2 linked regions of the Homo sapiens genome follow. The protein of the gene in region 1 interacts with the protein of each later gene in a biochemical or structural test. Each region holds a gene or a part of one and is shown in the gene's direction. Other genes may lie near its edges.

Region 1 (3,600 bases):
CTTTTCATCAACAGGTATTGAAAATGATTGAACATTGTTTTATTTGTGTAAACAGAACACACTATATATAAAAATCCAATAATTAACTGAATGGATAAGCAAAATGTGGTATAAGCATACAAAGGAATATTATTGGGTCATAAAAAGAATGAAGTACTGATACATGCTACAACATAGATAAACCTTGGAAACATTATGCAGAGTGAAGGAAGGCCAGACACCAAAAGCCACATATTGTATGATTCCATTTAGATGAAATGTCCAGAATAGGCAAATCCCTAGAGGCAGAAAGTAGATTAGTGGGTTACAGGGGCTGGGGAAAGGGAGGAATAAGGAGTGACTGCTAATGGGTATGAGGGTTTTTTTTGGAGGAGGTGATTAAAATGTTCTTCTGCCAGGTGTGGTGGCTCATGCCTGTAATCCCAGCACTTTGGGAGGCCGAGGCGGGAGGATTGTTTGAGCCCAGGAGTTTGAGGCCAGCCTGGGCAACATAGTGAGACCCTATCTCTATTTCAAATACATTTTTTATATTAAAAAAATGTTCTTCAAGTAGTTGGTAATTATTTTTAAAAATGGCCAGGTGCAGAGGCTCATGCCTGTAATCCCAGCACCTTGGGAGGCTGAGGTGGGAGGATCCCTTGAGCCCAGGAGGTTTGGGACCAGCCTGGGCCATACAGCAAGACCCTGTCTCTACAAAAAATACAAAAATTAGCTAGGCATAGTGATGTGCACCTGTGGTCCCAGCTACTCGGGAGGCTGAGGTAGGAGAATCTCTTGAGCCTATGTTGAGCCTGCAGTGAACCCTATTTATGCCATTGCACTCCAGCCTAGGCAACAGAGTAAGACTCTGTCTCAAAAAAAGAAAAAAAAAATTAGGGAAAGGAAGAATAATTAGCCAAGACTTGTAAAACAAAAATCAAATCTCTTCTTTTGATCACATAAAACTTGCTTTAAACTTGCAAAAAAGACCTGATATAAATTCATAAGTAACAAAAAATTGAATTATATTAGAAACCATTAATTCAATGAATACTAAAGCTATGTAGGATGTAGCAAAATATACATATTAAGAAAAGGATTATCATAAAAGTTTTAATCTCCAGGCTCAAACCTAGAAAATCACTCTCCTCAAAGCCAGGGTTAATCATCATGCTCCAAACCAGGTACATTTCACATCACTTTGGGATCCTGGCAACTTTCTCTTTTGTTTTTTTTTTTTTTTGAGACAGGGTCTCCTCTGTCACCCAGGATGGAGTGCAGTGGTGTGATCATAGCTCACTGCAGCCTCGAACTCCTCAAGTGATCTTCCTGCCTCAGCCTCCCAAGTAGCGGGACCACAGGCACACAGCACCATGCCCATCTAATTAAAAAAATTTTTTTTTGTAGAGACAGGGGTCTCTGTACATTTCCCAGGCTGGTCATGTACTCCTAAACTCAAGCAGTCCTCCCACCTCAGCCTCCCAAAGTGCCGGAATTACAGTCATGAGCCACCATTCCCAGCGCTGGTGACTTTCTCCATCACTGGTGACTTTCTCCATCACTGGTATTCACTGCATTAGTGATGACATCATTACAATCTTCAATATGCAACTTTGTAGTCCTACTCTTGCATTCTTACTTTAAAGCCTCAGCATTAAGTTTGAATGTAATATTACAGCATCCTTCATTACTTTAAATCATTGGTTTCAATAGTAATTCATTTAAATCTAAAATGTTAGGCTGCAGTGGCTCATGCCTGTAATCCCCCCAGTTTGGGAGACTGAGGTGGGAGAATCACTTGAGGCCAAGAATTTGAGACCAGCCTGGGCAACACGGCAAGACCCCATCTCTAAAAATTAGTGGCCCGGCGCTGTGCCTCACGCCTGTAATCCCAACACTTTGGGAGGCCGAGGCGGATAGCTTGAGGTCAGGAGTTCAAGATCAGCCTGGCCAACATGGCGGAAACCCATTTCTACTAAAAATACAAAAATTAGCTGGGCATGGTGGCACGCCTGTAATCCCAGCTATTGAGAGGCCGAGGCAGGCAGACTGGGAGGCCAAGGCAGGCAGATTGCTTTGAGACCTGCCTGGGTAACATGGAGAAATCCTGTCTCTACAGAAAAATACAAAAATTAGCCAAGCATGGAGAAACCTCGTCTCTATAGAAAGACACAAAAACTAGCCATGCATGCCTGTGGTCCAGCTACTCGAAAGGCTGAGGTGGGAGGATTGCTTGATCCTGAGAGGTCAAGGCTGAAGTGAGCCATGGTGTGGCACTGCACTCCAGCCAGGGTGACAGACTAAAACCTTGTCTCAAAATAAATAAACACATTTAAAATAAATAAATACAATTAAAACTAAAATTAAAAAATAAAATAAAATGTTAAGAGAATAGCTCAAATTCTCCAAAAGAACTCTTGCACACCATTCCTCCTCTTCTCAAATCTCTATTTTCCTTCCCCAAAGCCAGTAACTGCTTCTCACCCTGACCCTGTGCTTTCTTTCCCGTCATTGCGAAAGAATGGTCCTTGCTTCTGTGCTGATCCCAAACCCTTTTGCCCTCAGATCCTCCTGTCCTTCCCTGGCCCTGCTCTGTATTGGCTGTGGGGTGGGGGTGGCGGTGGAACTGACCCCTGGCGTCTGCATTTCTCAGGCTCCCAGGGCTGTGGCTGACTTTGGCCAATGGGAGGCAAGGACGGGAGACTGAGAGCTTGGGAGGAAGGGAGAGAGGTATGTTTCTTCTCCTTACTCCCTGCCTGGGATGGCACCTTGGGCAGGACTCTGTTTTGCCCATGGCCTCAGCTCCCACCAGATGCCTCTAGTCCCTGGGCTCAGGAAATAGACAACCTCCTTCCACTATCGCTGTAGCCCAAGGAGGGAAGTATTTTTTTCTTTCTTTCTTTCTTTTTTTTTTTTTTTTTACAGAGTCTCACTCTTGTTGCCCAGGCTGGAGTGCAGTGGTGCGATCTCAGCTCACTGCCACCTCTGCCTCCCGGGTTCAAGTGATTCTCCTGCCTCAGCCTCCAGGGTGTGCCACTATGCCCAGCTAATTTTTGTATTTTTGGTAGAGACGGGGTTTTGCCATGTTGACCAGGCTGGTCTTGAACTTCTGACCCCAAATGATCTGCCTGCCTCGTCCTCCCAAAGTGCTGGGATTACAGGCATGAGCCACTGTGCCTGGCCGAAGGAAATATTTTCTTGCTATTGCTAATCTCTGGGTTACCTCGCTATCCCCCATTTAGCTTCACTTCTCCTCCATCACCTGTATGAGGAATTCCCTCTGTGTTAAATATCTGGAGAAGTTTCCTGATTGGACCCTGGCTGTTGCAGCTTCCAAGGCCACCTCTCTTTGTGGCTGGTATCCTTTTCCCATGCATCTTCTCCAGGACTTCCATTCTGCAGTTATCTCTCTGAACTCAGTGTCTTCTTCCCATCAGTATAGGGGTGGACTTTAGTATCTCCTATGTTTAGGCAACATCTCTCCTTTGACTCTGCGTCTTCTCCAGTGGTTGCCCTTCTCTGCTCCTCTTCACAATAACACCTCCTGAAAGGGCCACCCATGCCTGCCCCCTCCTTTCCTCACCCCCTCTGTGGCTGGACTTCTGTTCCTACACTCCACCC
Region 2 (4,133 bases), about 16 Mb from region 1:
AGGGTAATTGAACCACATCTCTCATCATCCAACAGGGCTTGTTCACATAGCAGTGATTACAGGATTCCCAAGAGTAGAAATAAGATAGGCTTTAGGCTTCTTGAAGACTCAGAGCACATTATCATTTCTGTCAGACTGTATTGGTCAAAACAAGTCACAAGGCCAGCCCAGATTCAAGGAGTGGGGTAATAGACTCATGTCTTAATGCGAGGAGCTGTACCCTATTGAGGCCATTTTTGCCATCTACTACAACAAGTGATTTGCTCATGCCCTCCCCACTTGGATAATGGGCAACTCACAAAAATCTTGGTTTCCTGACTAACAGAACAAACCTGGAAAAAACAAAAACAAAACAAAAGACATCAAAAGCAAAACCTCTCCAAAGACAAAAACTCTGCAATCTTTTTCGTCACTCTTCACCAGGTCATAATAGAGTAACGCCTCAAGAGATTTCTTTTTAGTTTTGATAGAACAATTTATTTGAAAAAAAAATCTGTGAAGAACCTGGCATATGGATTGCTAGGTAATCAGGGAGTATATGTGTGCATGTGATATGTATGCGTACTTTGGGATACAGTAAACAGACAAAGAGGGACATTTGGGGTTGGATGGAAATAGCGATTTTTCATTCTTTGGGCTTTTCAGTATTTTTTATTTTCCTTCAAAGTGTAAACATCAATGTAAAATAAGCTTTTTTTTTCAGTTTGAAAAAGATACTCCACTCCCTTGTATATGCACAGTTCTGAGGCTCCTTCTCAACAATGCTTCTTTACTTTGTTCTAATTTTCTAGATGGTGATAGTAGCCTGGCTGCCTCAGAAAGAAAAGCTCTGCAAACAGAAATGGCACGTATCAAAAAGTGTAAGCTTTTTCTCTTACTCTCCAGGCAGCTTGAAGTTTGGGAAAAATAGAATGCAACAAATATTTGTTGAATGCATATAATTTTCTGTACCCTGCTAGGCATTTCTCATATTCTTACCTCATGAAATTCTCACAACATTTTGGTAGAAATGGAGGCAAAGGGAAGTTAAATTACTTGTTCAAATGCACAGAGCTAATAAATGGCAGGGGTGGTTTATAGATGGAAGTCAGTCTGACTCGAGAGACCCTAATCCTTTACCGTCTGATATTGCTCACTGAAAATGGGACTTATATCCCTTTGTTGCACTGGTATTGAGACCTGGCCGTGGGGTCTAACCTGCCTGGGGCAAATATTTTCAGACATTTTTTGTTTGGTCTCAAGTTAACAATTTAGAATTCAGAAGTCCAAATTATATGTCTTTTAGAATTCTGATCTGAAAGCACAGAGAGGCCTTTGTACCAGTCTGTCTGTTCACATTTGGGTTGCCATATTTAACAAATAAAAAGACAAAGCACCAGTTAAATTGGATTTCAGCTGAAAAACATTTTTAGTATAAGTGTGTCTGAAAAATTATATGGGAGATATACTAAAATATTCATTGTTTGTCTGAAATTCAAATTTAACTGGACATACTATATTTTATCCGGCAACTGTACTCTAGAAGACTTTTTCTTGAGAAATACCTTGAGTTGGGCTTAAGGATGAGTCAGTTTCACCCACTTTTTCACATTTTAGGGCTCACCTTCTCTCTGGGCAAACAAGTTGGGAACAAGTTCTTCCTGACCAATGGTGAAATAATGACCTTTGAAAAAGTGAAGGCCTTGTGTGTCAAGTTCCAGGCCTCTGTGGCCACCCCCAGGAATGCTGCAGAGAATGGAGCCATTCAGAATCTCATCAAGGAGGAAGCCTTCCTGGGCATCACTGATGAGAAGACAGAAGGGCAGTTTGTGGATCTGACAGGAAATAGACTGACCTACACAAACTGGAACGAGGGTGAACCCAACAATGCTGGTTCTGATGAAGATTGTGTATTGCTACTGAAAAATGGCCAGTGGAATGACGTCCCCTGCTCCACCTCCCATCTGGCCGTCTGTGAGTTCCCTATCTGAAGGGTCATATCACTCAGGCCCTCCTTGTCTTTTTACTGCAACCCACAGGCCCACAGTATGCTTGAAAAGATAAATTATATCAATTTCCTCATATCCAGTATTGTTCCTTTTGTGGGCAATCACTAAAAATGATCACTAACAGCACCAACAAAGCAATAATAGTAGTAGTAGTAGTTAGCAGCAGCAGTAGTAGTCATGCTAATTATATAATATTTTTAATATATACTATGAGGCCCTATCTTTTGCATCCTACATTAATTATCTAGTTTAATTAATCTGTAATGCTTTCGATAGTGTTAACTTGCTGCAGTATGAAAATAAGACGGATTTATTTTTCCATTTACAACAAACACCTGTGCTCTGTTGAGCCTTCCTTTCTGTTTGGGTAGAGGGCTCCCCTAATGACATCACCACAGTTTAATACCACAGCTTTTTACCAAGTTTCAGGTATTAAGAAAATCTATTTTGTAACTTTCTCTATGAACTCTGTTTTCTTTCTAATGAGATATTAAACCATGTAAAGAACATAAATAACAAATCTCAAGCAAACAGCTTCACAAATTCTCACACACATACATACCTATATACTCACTTTCTAGATTAAGATATGGGACATTTTTGACTCCCTAGAAGCCCCGTTATAACTCCTCCTAGTACTAACTCCTAGGAAAATACTATTCTGACCTCCATGACTGCACAGTAATTTCGTCTGTTTATAAACATTGTATAGTTGGAATCATATTGTGTGTAATGTTGTATGTCTTGTTTACTCAGAATTAAGTCTGTGAGATTCATTCATGTCATGTGTACAAAAGTTTCATCCTTTTCATTGCCATGTAGGGTTCCCTTATATTAATATTCCTCAGTTCATCCATTCTATTGTTAATAGGCACTTAAGTGGCTTCCAATTTTTGGCCATGAGGAAGAGAACCCACGAACATTCCTGGACTTGTCTTTTGGTGGACATGGTGCACTAATTTCACTACCTATCCAGGAGTGGAACTGGTAGAGGATGAGGAAAGCATGTATTCAGCTTTAGTAGATATTACCAGTTTTCCTAAGTGATTGTATGAATTTATGCTCCTACCGGCAATGTGTGGCAGTCCTAGATGCTCTATGTGCTTGTAAAAAGTCAATGTTTTCAGTTCTCTTGATTTTCATTATTCCTGTGGATGTAAAGTGATATTTCCCCATGGTTTTAATCTGTATTTCCCCAACATGTAATAAGGTTGAACACTTTTTTATATGCTTATTGGGCACTTGGGTATCTTCTTTTGTGAAGTACCCGTTCACATTTTTGTATTTTGTTTAAATTAGTTAGCCAATATTTTTCTTACTGATTTTTAAGTTATTTTTACATTCTGAATATGTCCTTTTTAATGTGTATTACAAATATTTTGCTAGTTTTTGACTTGCTCCTAATGTTGAATTTTGATGAACAAAATTTCCTAATTTTGAGAAAGTCTTATTTATTCATATTTTCTTTCAAAATTAGTGCTTTTTGTGTCATGTTTAAGAAATTTTTGCCCATCCCAAAATCATAAGATATTTTTCATGATTTTGAAACCATGAAGAGATTTTTCATGATTTTGAAATCATGAAGATATTTTTCCATTTTTTTCTAATAGTTTTATTAATAAACATTCTATCTATTCCTGGTAGAATAGATATCCACTTGAGACAGCACTATGTAGGAAAGACCATTTTTCCTCCACTGAACTAGGGTGGTGCATTTTTGTAAGTTAGGTAACTGTATGTGTGTGTGTCTGTTTCTGGGCTGTCTATTCTAGTCTATTTGTTGATGCTTGTGTCAAACAGTACACTATCTTAATTATTGTACATTTATAGTTGTAACTATAGTCCAGCTTTGTTCTTCTTAAAGTCAAGATTTCCATATAAATATTAGAAACAGCTTCTCAATTTCTACAAAATCCTGATGAGGTTTCTACTGGGACCACATTGAGTCTATCAATCAACTTATGCAGAACTGGCAACTTACTACTGAATCTCTAATCAATGTTCATCATGTATCGCTTCATGTAACTAGAATTTCTTTAACTTAATTGCTATGTTTTGACATTTTTAGTTTAAAAACCTTGTATATCTTGTTTTGGTGGTTTTAGTGATTTTAATAATATATTTTAAATATTTTTTCTTTTCTAT

Evidence for each region.
Region 2: the proteins of SRGN (region 1) and MBL2 form a complex in vitro, tested with the Homo sapiens proteins (one study listed by IntAct).

What each region holds. Positions count from the first base shown.
Region 1 is NC_000010.11:69,098,103-69,101,702, forward strand, and holds part of SRGN (serglycin isoform 1 precursor), read left to right. Parts: intron 1-3,600. UniProt on the Homo sapiens protein: Plays a role in formation of mast cell secretory granules and mediates storage of various compounds in secretory vesicles. Required for storage of some proteases in both connective tissue and mucosal mast cells and for storage of granzyme B in T-lymphocytes.
Region 2 is NC_000010.11:52,765,974-52,770,106, reverse strand, and holds part of MBL2 (mannose-binding protein C precursor), read left to right. Parts: intron 1-791; coding exon 792-860; intron 861-1,596; coding exon 1,597-1,970; 3' UTR 1,971-4,133. UniProt on the Homo sapiens protein: Calcium-dependent lectin involved in innate immune defense. Binds mannose, fucose and N-acetylglucosamine on different microorganisms and activates the lectin complement pathway.